Regions from separate parts of the Homo sapiens genome. Here region 2 is linked to region 1. The links come from fine-mapping of genetic effects on gene expression. A gene starts in region 1. The other region holds a variant in brackets. All regions are shown on one strand. Distances are from middle to middle.

The links. PIP is the estimated chance that this variant, and not a neighbour inherited with it, causes the effect.
Region 2: its variant is the best candidate, but not a certain one, in a credible set for the expression of COQ10A in nasal epithelium (TOPMed, PIP 0.87).

The regions. Positions count from the first base shown.
Region 1 is chr12:56,263,737-56,269,220 of GRCh38, forward strand. COQ10A (coenzyme Q10A) reads left to right here and starts at 3,206. Exons shown (of 5, transcript NM_144576.4): 1 at 3,206-3,516; 2 at 4,058-4,204; 3 at 5,323-5,484. The coding sequence starts at 3,383. RefSeq lists enhancers at 283-452, 3,099-3,208, 3,277-3,776, 3,300-3,469, 3,919-3,988, a silencer at 3,309-3,638 and a cis regulatory region at 3,385.
Region 2 is chr12:56,284,240-56,289,474 of GRCh38, forward strand. CS (citrate synthase) reads right to left here. Exons shown (of 11, transcript NM_004077.3): 2 at 2,356-2,406; 3 at 1,677-1,784. Among named protein-coding and RNA genes, the nearest start is that of CS, 13 kb to the right of the region's middle. The variant C/T (reference allele first, on the strand shown) is at 2,722.

The DNA.
Region 1 (5,484 bases):
TTTCACCATGTTAGCCAGGATGGTCTCCATCTCCTGACCTCGTGATCCACCCGCCTTGGCCTCCCAAAGTGCTGGGATTACAGGCAGTGAGCCACTGCGCCCGGACATGTTTTGTATTTTTTGTAGAAATGGGTTTTTGCCACGTTGGCCAGGATGGTTTTGATCTCCTGACCTCATGATCCGCCTGCCTTGGCCTCCCAAAGTGCTGGGATTACAGGTGTGAGCCACCGTGCCCGGCCCAAGAGCTACCCTGTTTCTAGACCAGATGTCTCTTCCAGATTAGTTGGACAAGAATTGCAACACAGTCTTTTTTTGTTTTTGTTTTTGTTTTTCTGAGACAGGGTCTCACTCCCGTCACACAGACTGGAGTGCAGTGGTGCAATCACGGCTCACTGCAGCCTCAACCTCCTGGGCCCAGGTGATCCAACTCAGACTCCCAAGTAGCTGGGATTACAGGCATGTGCCACCATGCCTGGCTAAATTTTTTTGTATTTTTTGTAGAGACAAGGTTTCACCATATTGCCCAGGCTGGTCTCAAACTCCCGGGCTCGGGTGATCCACCAACCTTCACCTCCCAAAGTGCTGCAATTACAGATATGAGCCACCATGCCTGGCTACAACACAGTCTTTATTTACTTTATCCCCTGCCCCTCTGCATAACCACCACACACAACACTTCTCAGGGAAAGATTTCCTGAAAGTGGAGAGCTTGACTGAAGATTTAGAAAGCAAGCAGAGGAAAGGCTTGTACTGTAATAGCATGAATTTCTTAAAACTCAACAGCAGGCACCACCATTCTCTTGCACCCACCTAGTTCTAGTCTCTCTTTTTTTTTTCTTTTTTATTTTTGGAGAGACAAGTTCTCACTATGTTGCCCAGGCTGGTCTTGAACTCCTGGCCTCAAGTGATCCTCCCACCTCAGCCTCCCAAAGTGCTGGGATTACAGGCATGAGCCACTGCACTTAGCCCAATCTCTTTCTAATTGTTGATTTCTTTCTTCCCTTCCTTTTTTTCTTTTGTTTGCCTGACTTTTTTTTTTTTTTTTTTTTGAGATGGAGTCTTGCACTGCTGCCCAGGCTGGAGTGCAGTGGTGCGATCTTGGCTCACTGCAAGCTCCGCTCCCCGGGTTCATGCCATTCTCCTGCCTCGGCCTCCTGAGTAGCTGGGACTACAGGTACCCACCACCACGCCCGGCTAATTTTTTGTATTTTTAGTAGAGATGCAGTTTCACCCTGTTAGCCAGGATGGTCTCGATCTCCTGACCTCGTGATCCACCCACCTCGGCCTCCCAAAGTGCTGAGATTACAGGCATGAGCCACCGCACCTGGCCCACCTGACTTTTATCAAGAGCATTTTTTCTCTTTCTTGCTCGCTTGCTTTCTTTTCTTTTCTTTCTTTCCTTTTTTTTTTTTTTTTTTTTTTGAGATGGAGTCTTGCTCTGTTGCTCAGGCTGGAGTGCAGTGGCACAATCTCAGCTCACTCCAACTTCCGCCTCCTGGGTTCAAGCGATTCTCCTGCCTCAGCCTCCCGAGTAGCTGGGATTAGAGGCGCCCGCCACCATACCTGGCTAATTTTTGTATTTTTAGTAGAGATAAGGTCTCACTATGTTGGCCAGGCTGGTCTTGAACTCCTGACCTCAAGTGATCTGCCCGCCTCAGCCTCCCAAAGTGCTGGGATTACAGACGTGAGCCACCATGCCTAGCCAAGAGCATTTTTTTTTTCTCCTTGAATCATGAAAAGTAGTATAGTGGTATTTAATTGCGTGGGTTTCTGTCCATGAGGTCTCACTCTTCATCAAGCGCACACTTTTCAAACAAAGATGGTTCTCTGTCCTAAGAATATCTGGTTCTTCCTACCTCGACTTCTTTCTATAAATATTAAAGGTAAAAACTATGCAGTCTTAGCCCAGAGCTTGGAATGTTAATCTCCTTTCCCAAAAATGTAGAACACAGCACTAACCACTTGTGGAAGCTACAAAGATGAACAGTGCTTCTAACTATAAACAAGGCCGAATATGATAAAGGCTCTGTGATGATTGAGTGTCAACTTGATTGGATTGAAGGAGGCAAAGTGTTGTTCCTGAGTGTCTGTGAGGGTGTTGCCAAAGGAGATTAACATTTAAGTCAGTGGACTGGAAGGAAGTGACCCAGTCTCAATGGTGGGCACCATCCAATCCGCTGCCAGCGACGCTAGAAAAAGTAGGCAGGGCTAGGCATGGTGGCTAACACCTGTAATCCCAGCACTTTGGGAAGCCGAGACGGGTGGATCACCTGAGGTCAGGAGTTCGAGACCAGCCTGGCCAACATGGCGAAACCCCATCTCTACTAAAAATACAAAAATTAGCTGGGCATGGTGGCGCATGCCTGTAATCCCAGGTACTGGGGAGGGGGGCGGGGCGGGGGTGGTGAGGCAGGAGGATCGCTTGAACCTGGGAGGCCAAGGTTGCAGTGAGCTGAGATCGTGCCACTGCACTCCAGTCTGGGCAACAGAGCGAGACTCCGTCTCAAATAAATAAATAAATAAATAAATAAATAAATAAATAAATAAAAGTAAAAGTAGGTGGAAGAAGCTGACTTGCTGAAGTCTTCCGGCCTTCGTCTTTCTCTCATGCTGGATGCTTCCTGCCCTCGAACATCAGACTCCAAGTTCTTCAGCTTTTGGACTCTTGGACTTACACCAGTGGTTTGCCAAGGGCTCTCGGGGCTTTGGCCACAGACTGAAGGCTGCACTGCCGGCTTCCCTACTTTTGAGGTTTTGGGCCTTGGACTGATCCACCACTGGCCTCCTTGCTCCTCAACTTGCAGACGGCCTAATGTGAGACTTTACCTTGTGATCCTGTGAGGCAATTCTTAATAAACTCCCTTTCATATATACATTTATCCTATTCACTATGTCCCTCTAGAGAACCTAAGGCTCTAACAGCGACGTTCAGAGGATCTACAGATATCTGCGGTAGACACGCCCACGAAGTCGCCTCTGTGCCTACCTATCGGGTCCTGTGACCACAGGCGACCTCAGTCCCCGAACCATCTTTGCAGCTTCTCAAACGCACACCCCAGTGCCCTTTCTCGCCACAGGTGTGAAACTACATCTCCCGACAGGCGGCGTTGTCCCCTTCCTTCCTTCCTTCCTCTCCCAGGCCCGAGCCATGGCAACAGCGTGACGTGGGGGTACCGAGATCTGCGGGAGCAGCGGTCCCGGCTTCAGTTCTAGCCTACCCGGCAGCCTGGACGGGAGCAAGGCGAGAGGTGCTGCCGCCTCCCGTCGCCCCTGCGCTCAGAGGTCCCGAACCAGCCCAGCCGCTGCCTCTTGCCGCTCCGCCTTTGGAGTGAGGAGGGCGCAGCCCGCGTCAGAACTTAGAGGGCCAGGCAGGGTCGCGCGCATGGCCTGGGCGGGCTCGCGGCGGGTCCCAGCTGGGACGCGCGCGGCAGCCGAGCGCTGCTGCCGGCTCTCGCTCAGCCCGGGCGCGCAACCGGCCCCGCCCCCAGGCCCTCTGCCACCGCCGCGACCAATGAGGTGAGAGGGAGGTGACCGCGGCTGAGGGCAGGGGGTCGCTGCGAACCCCGGGGTTCCGCGGTGGAGGGGTGCTATACTGGGATGCAGGCGCGGCGGGGACTGGCAGCAATCATGCCCTGGGAGCTAACGTAGAGCTTTGGATAATGCTTTTGCAAGTTGTACGAGAAGGGAAGTTCTCGGGGTGAGTGTCCAACCTCTTCTTGGCCCTCGCGGGCGCCCTGGGGTCCCCGGGGACAGTGATGCTTCCTTAAAGTCTTAGCTTTCAGCAGTAGTGTAGGCCCAGTCAAAGGCAACTGGCGCTTCCCACACACCCCTTTTTCTCATCCCCCTCACCCCGCCCCCAGCCCTGTCCTTAGCTGCCCTCGACCTTTTGCACTCGTGACTCCCTGGCCAGAGAGAGCCTAGCGGGCTGCAGCAGGTGCTGGGGGGAAAGCTTGTTTGGACGACCTTCGTCTGGGATGCACTCTTCTTCTCCTTCACCTACAAATGATAGAGGATTACGAAGAACTATACGGTTGGCTCCTCTTTCCTTTGGCCTTAGGTTTCTGACCTCCTGCAGCCTCCTCTTGCCTCGGGCTGCCCAGATCTTGGCGGCTGAGGCTGGCTTACCTTCGAGCCGTTCCTTCATGGGATTTGCTGCTCCCTTCACCAACAAGCGAAAGGCTTACTCGGAGCGTAGAATCATGGGGTAAGCATTCTCTGCCTTGCATCCTTGCACCTCCCTTTTCCCTCCAAATAACCCTGTCCAGGCAAGAATGTCAGGGTATCATCGGTGGGCAAGATTCATCCCTAGCCATCCCCCTCCCCAGCTACAATACTGATCCTCAGTCCTCCCCTGCCACTCTTCCGACCTTAATTTCTCCCTTCTTGGTTGCTGTGCATGTGCTTAAGTGAAATGAGACTAGGGTTGGACTATACTTTAAGACAACAGGGCGTAGCTGGGTGCGGTGGCTCACGCCTGTAATCCCAGGACTTTGGGAGGCTGAGGCGGGCCGATCGTTTTAGGTCAGGAGTTCGAGACCAGCCTGGCCAACATGGTGAAACCCTGTCTCCACTAAAAAAAAACACACACACAAGAATCAGCCTGGCACGGTGGCGGGCGCCTTTAATCCCAGCTATTTGGGAGGCTGAGGCAGGATAATCGCTGGAACCTGGGAGGCAGAGGTTGCAGTGAGCTGAGATTGCCCCACTGCACTCCAGCCTGGGCGACAGAGCAAGACTGTCTCAAAAAACAAAACAAAAAACAGGGTGTATTTTTCTGGTGACCATTTAAAAATAATTTTTATGGGTACCTAGTATGTGTAAATTAGCAGCGTAACCTTTTTAGTATATTTTGAGCATAATAGCTAAATTATCGAGCACTTGCTACATGCTAGCAGCTTGACTTAGATGTTTTACATAGATATTTCTCATTTAATTCTCACAACAAACCTATAAATCAGGTGAGAAAATGGAGACACAGGTAATTTACCTAAGGCCACATTGTTAAAAAATTGTTAAGAGCTGGGATCTGATCCTTGTGTGATCACCAGTAAAACTGACAGCCTCTGTTCTCCCTAGATGGTCCCTCTTAAAATCAAAATAAACAATGAATGCAAAAGCATTCTGTAAACTGCAAAATATAAGGTAACAGTATCATAAGGATTTACACGTTTGCTTTTGGGAAGTTATTCATCCAGGCTTATTTGGGATCTGTAGTTCCTGAAGGTGCGTGGTTAGTGGGCAAAGGTATGAATTAGGGGCCTATAGCAAGGAGGAACCTGACCCAGCTGGCAGCTCCTTGGCCTGTGATTCTTCTTCTCCTAGGTACTCAATGCAGGAGATGTATGAGGTGGTGTCCAACGTCCAGGAGTATCGTGAGTTTGTGCCCTGGTGTAAGAAGTCTCTGGTGGTATCCAGCCGTAAGGGTCATTTGAAAGCCCAGCTGGAGGTTGGCTTTCCACCTGTCATGGAACGTTACACCTCTGC
Region 2 (5,235 bases), 20 kb after region 1:
ACCCAGAAGGCAGAGATTGCAGTGAGCCAAGATCACACCATTGCACTTCAGCCTGGGTGACAAGAGCAAAACTCCATCTCAAAAAAAAAAAAAAAAAAGAAAAAAAAAAACAAACTTTGTGGCCAGGTACGGTGGGGCTCATGCCTGTAATCCCAGCACTTTGGGAGGCTGAGGAGGAGGGAAGATCACTAAGCCTCTCACAGAGTCTGTCACTCAGGCTGCAGCACAGTGGCACAATCACGGCTTACTGCAGCCTTGACTTGCAGGCTCAGGTGATCCACCCACTTCAGCCTCCTGAGTAGCTGGGATTATAGGCACGTGCCACCATGTCTGGCTAATTTTTGTATTTCTTTTTTTTTTTTTTAAAGAAATGGGGTTTAGGCCGGGTGCAGTGGCTCACGCCTGTAATCCCAGCACTTTGGGAGGCCAAGGCGGGCAGATCACGACGTCAGGATATCGAGACATCCTGGCCAACATGGTGAAACCCTGTCTCTACTAAAAATACAAAAATCAGCTGGGCGTGGTGGTGCGGGCCTGTAATCCCAGCTACTCAGGAGGCTGAGGCAGAAGAATCGCTTGAACCCGGGAGGCGGAGGTTGTAGTGAGCCGAGATCACGTCACTGTACTCCAGCCTGGTGACTCAGTGAGACTCCGTCCCAAAAAAAAAAAAAAAAACAGGGTTTTGCCAGCCATGTTGCCAAGGCTGATCTTTTTTTTTTTCCCCCCAGATGGAGTCTCACTCTTGCCCAGGCTGGAGTGCAATGGTGCAATCTCAGCTCACTGCAACCTCTGCCTCCTGGGTTTAAGTGATTCTCCTGCCTCAGGCTCCTGAGTAGCTGGGATTACAGTTGCCTGCCACCATGCCCAGCTAATTTTTATATTTTTTAGTAGAGACGGAGTTTTACCATGTTGGCCAGGCTGGTCTCGAACTCCTGACCTCAGATGAGCCACCCGCCTCAGCCTCCCAAAGTGCTGGGATTACAGGCATGAGCCACTGCAACAGGCCTGGAAATGAAATTTTTTAAGTTGAGAAATCACTATCTTTCTTTTTGTTTGTTTTGGAGATAGGGTCTCCCTCTGTTGCCCAGGCTATACTACAGTGGCATAATCATGGCTCACTGCAGCCCTGAACTCCTGGGCTCAAGCAATCCTCCTGCCTTTGCCTCCCCAGTAGCTGGGACTACAGGGGCATCCCACCATCTCTGGCTAATTTTTTAAATTTTTCTTTCATAGAGATTGTATCTTCCTTTGTTGATCAAGCTGGTTGTTAACTCCTGGCCTCAAGTGATTCTCCAACTGCAGCCTCCCAAAATGTTGGGATAATAGGCATGAGCCATTGCGCCCTCTGTTTGATTCCTTTTCTTATTGTATTTCACTTTTTTTCTCCTGCCCACTCAACCACTCCCCAACATACCCTACCCTCAAATTCCAACCAATCAAAACAAACAGAATGAGTTCTAGTCTAGGAGAAGGGGATGGAGACCAATAAGCTAAAAACTGTTGAGAAACTATCAGCTGAGCTGCTCAGAATCTGAAGGATGGGGAAAAGTCATCCTAAAGCTGTCCTACAGGGCCTATGGGACAGAATGCTTTTGAATAGTCAGTGGAGAGAATGTTACTTTTGTTGAAGCACATTACAGAGCTACTTTTCCCAGCCAAAGCCACACAACCCTTACCATGTCCACAGTGATTTGGCCCACCACCGTCTTGCCATGTTGCTGCCTGAAAGTCTTAATTCTGGCCTGCTCCTTAGGTATCAGGTCAGCCAATATGTCTTTCAAATTCTAAAAAGAAAAGTAGAAGGACTAAGCAATGGTCTAAAAGTTTATTAGATTTCCTGCAAAGTAGGTGTGTCAAGAATTTGCTTTTTAGAAGCTGGCTTTATCTGCCAGGGAAGTCTGGTCAACTACTCTGCACAAATGAGGGTAAAAGAATTAGGCAGGGGGAAGAAGGAATGAGGAGTTAATGTTTAATGGGAACAGTTTCTCGGTTTGGGCAGACAAAAGTTCTGGAGATGGATGGTTGCACAATAATGTAAACATATCTACTGCCACTAAACCATATACTTAAAAATGATTAAAATGGTAAATTTTATGTTATGTATATTTTACACTACTTAAAACATTTAAAAGAATTAGGCAAATGTATTGATATTCCCATCTCACTATACCACTGAGTAAATTATTTGTTAAATAGTAATATAATAATAATAGCAGCTATAACAATAACAATAGTAACAAACACTTCCAGGAAATACTCAGGATAATAAGAGGCCAGGTGGTTGCCAAATCCTCTGCCCCAAGGTCAGGCTGGCCGCAATGATTCTTATTCTTAGTCTTCTTTTCCAAACCTTACCGTGGAGGAAGCACTGGCATGCCGGGCTGCAAGAACAAGACAAGATGCATTCTGCAAAGCAAAAAAGAGAACCTTATGTAACTGTTACCCCTCCCTCTTTTATATTAACAAGAAGGAATTACAGTGACTCAACCTCTCTCTCTTCATCTCAGTCTCTTAGGGCAGTTTGACATAAGAAAGCTGTAAAAGTCCCCAAACAGTTTGGAAGGAGTTACCACTATGGAGACAGCAGGAGGTTTAACTGCTTTTTTTCATCCATAGCTTCACTAGCATTCCTTGAAGACAGACTCTTTCCCATCATCTGGGCTCCAGAGCAGGGCGGTTATCAATATTTTTGAGTGACCCCAAGGAAAACAAATGAGGAAA[C/T]TGAGCAATTACTTAACACTGCTGGTAAGATCTCTCCTGCACCTGGTCTTTCGACAGCACTTCAACCTCTCTAATCTGGGAAAGACCACAGGCAGAGGGCAGCCTTTCATAACGGTACTTCTGACCCTCCTGGAAAAAGCACAAAGATTATCTACAAAGAAGCTGACAGAAGACTACTCATTAGCAGAAATGGAAACTTGCAAAGTTTCTAAGAGTGTCAAAAGAAAATAATTAGTTTGGCTGGGCGCGGTGGCTCATGCCTGTAATCCCAGCACTTTGGGAAGCTGAGGCGGTGGATCACCTGAGGTCAGGAGTTCAAGACCAGCCTGGCCAACATGGTGAAACCCTTCTCTACTAAAAATACAAAAATTAGCCAGGCGTGGTATGGGCAGGCAGCTGTAATCCCAGCTACTCAGGAGACTGAGGTGGGAGAATGGCTTAAACCTTGGAGGCAGAGGTTGCAGTGAGCCAAGATTGTGCCACTGCACTCCAGCCTGGGCAAATGAGCAAGACTCTGTCAAAAAAAAAAAAAAAAAAAAAAAAAAAAAAAGAGAGAGAGAGAAAATAGTTTAGCTAGTTTATGCTTTTCTGTGTGTACAGGTAGTTTCTTTTTTCCTCAAATAAAAAATACATCTGTGAGAAGATTGTTAAGTTGCAATAAAAGTTCCACACCAACTTTGTGAGTTTTCTTTTTCCTTTTCTTTATTTTTTTTGAGACAGTTTCACTCTTGTTGCCCAGACTGGAGTGCAATGGCACAATCTCAGCTCACCGCAACCTCAGCCTTCTGGATTCAAGTGATTCTCCTGCCTTAGCCTCCTGAGTAGCTGGGATTACAGGCATGCACCACCATGCTTGGCTAATTTTTTTTGTATTTTTAGTAGAGACGGGGTTTCACCATGTTGGCCACGCTGGTCTCAAACTCCTGACCTCAGGTGATCTGCCTGCCTCGGCCTCTCAAAGCACTGGGATTACAGGCGTAAGCCACCATGCCAGGCCATACACCAACTTTGAAATAAGATGACCAATCAGGTTACTAACTAGGAATACGGCCTGAGGCAAGGAAATTAATTTTTCTGTACTAGATTTTGAAAACAAATTGAGATAATCAAATTAAGCCTAAGTTTCCTGCTCTATAAAATGGCTCTAATACTCACCACACACCTCACAGAATAGTCCCATGATAACTAAATTACAGTGGATATAAAAGTGCTTTGCAGACTTAGAAGATTACACACAGAAATAAACTAATCCTGGAGCAAGGCTGCACCTGTCCTTTTGTCAAAAGACCAGAGGCACCTTTTCTAGTAACTACTGCACTGCTCTCTGTGCAAAAAATTGCTACCTGCCTGGGGTGAGAGTTCTATAGGGCTGAAGGCTTTTTAGAATTTTTTTTTTTTTTTTTTTTTTTGAGATGGAGTCTCATTCTGTCGCCCAGGCTGAAGTGCAGTGGCGTGATCTCTGGCTCCCGTGTTCAAGTGATTCTCATGCCTCAGCCTCCTGAGTAGCTGGGATTATAGGCACACGCCACCATGCTTGGCTAATTTTTGTATTTTCAGTAGAGACAGAGTTTCATCATGTTGTCCAGGCTGGTCTCAAACTCCTGACATCTGGTGATACGCCTACCTCGGCCTCCCAGATTTTTAGAATTTTTAAAATTTAGTTCCCCTATTTCTGTTGGGACGGAGAGGAGGAATGAAAAGAGGCCCTTCAGAAAGGTCACTCTTTCCCCCAGGCTGGAGTATAGTGGCATGTTAATAGCTCACTGTAGCCTTCAATTCCTGGGCTCAAGTGATACTTCCACCTCAGCCTCCTGAGTAGCCAGGATTACAGGCGCACATCACCAAGCCCAGCTAATTAAAAAAAAAAAAATTTTTTTTTGTAGAGATGGGGTCTTGCTCTGTTGCCCAGGCTGGCCTCGAGTGATCCTGGGCTCAAGTGATCCTCCATTTTCAGCCTCCCAAAGTGCTGGGATTACAGGTATGCACCACTGCACCCAGACAGAAAAGATTACTTTTAAAAGAATCAATCCAAAGGTAAATTCAGAGAGCATAGACCAAGCCAGTATGTTCCTAAAGCAAACGAGGAACACCTCAACTTGTTACCAGGGCTGTCCTTAACTCCTTTTCTTAACTTCCTCAAGAGTCTCCTCTATCTTACTGAGGATCACTTGAGCAAGAAAATAGGCAGCACAAACAGCCCTTCATAGCCCTTGCACCCTACATGGGCAAACAGGAAGCTGAACCCAGCACTGAAGATGTAACTTTGCCCTTTCTTTCACAAAAAAAGTGGGCAAAGAAAACATGTTAATAAGTTCAAACTATTGTTCTACAGAGTTAACCTTGTTCAAGCTATTCCATGGTTTAGAGTCCCACAGATTCCCTACTAGAGAGGCCCCATGTCCCAGAGACTACATCAGCCCAGCAGGAGACCTTTTAATTGAGGGTGGTTGTTTGCTGTGGTGATTTTTTTTTAAATTTAATTTAATTAATTTTTTTTTTTGAGACGGAGTCCCG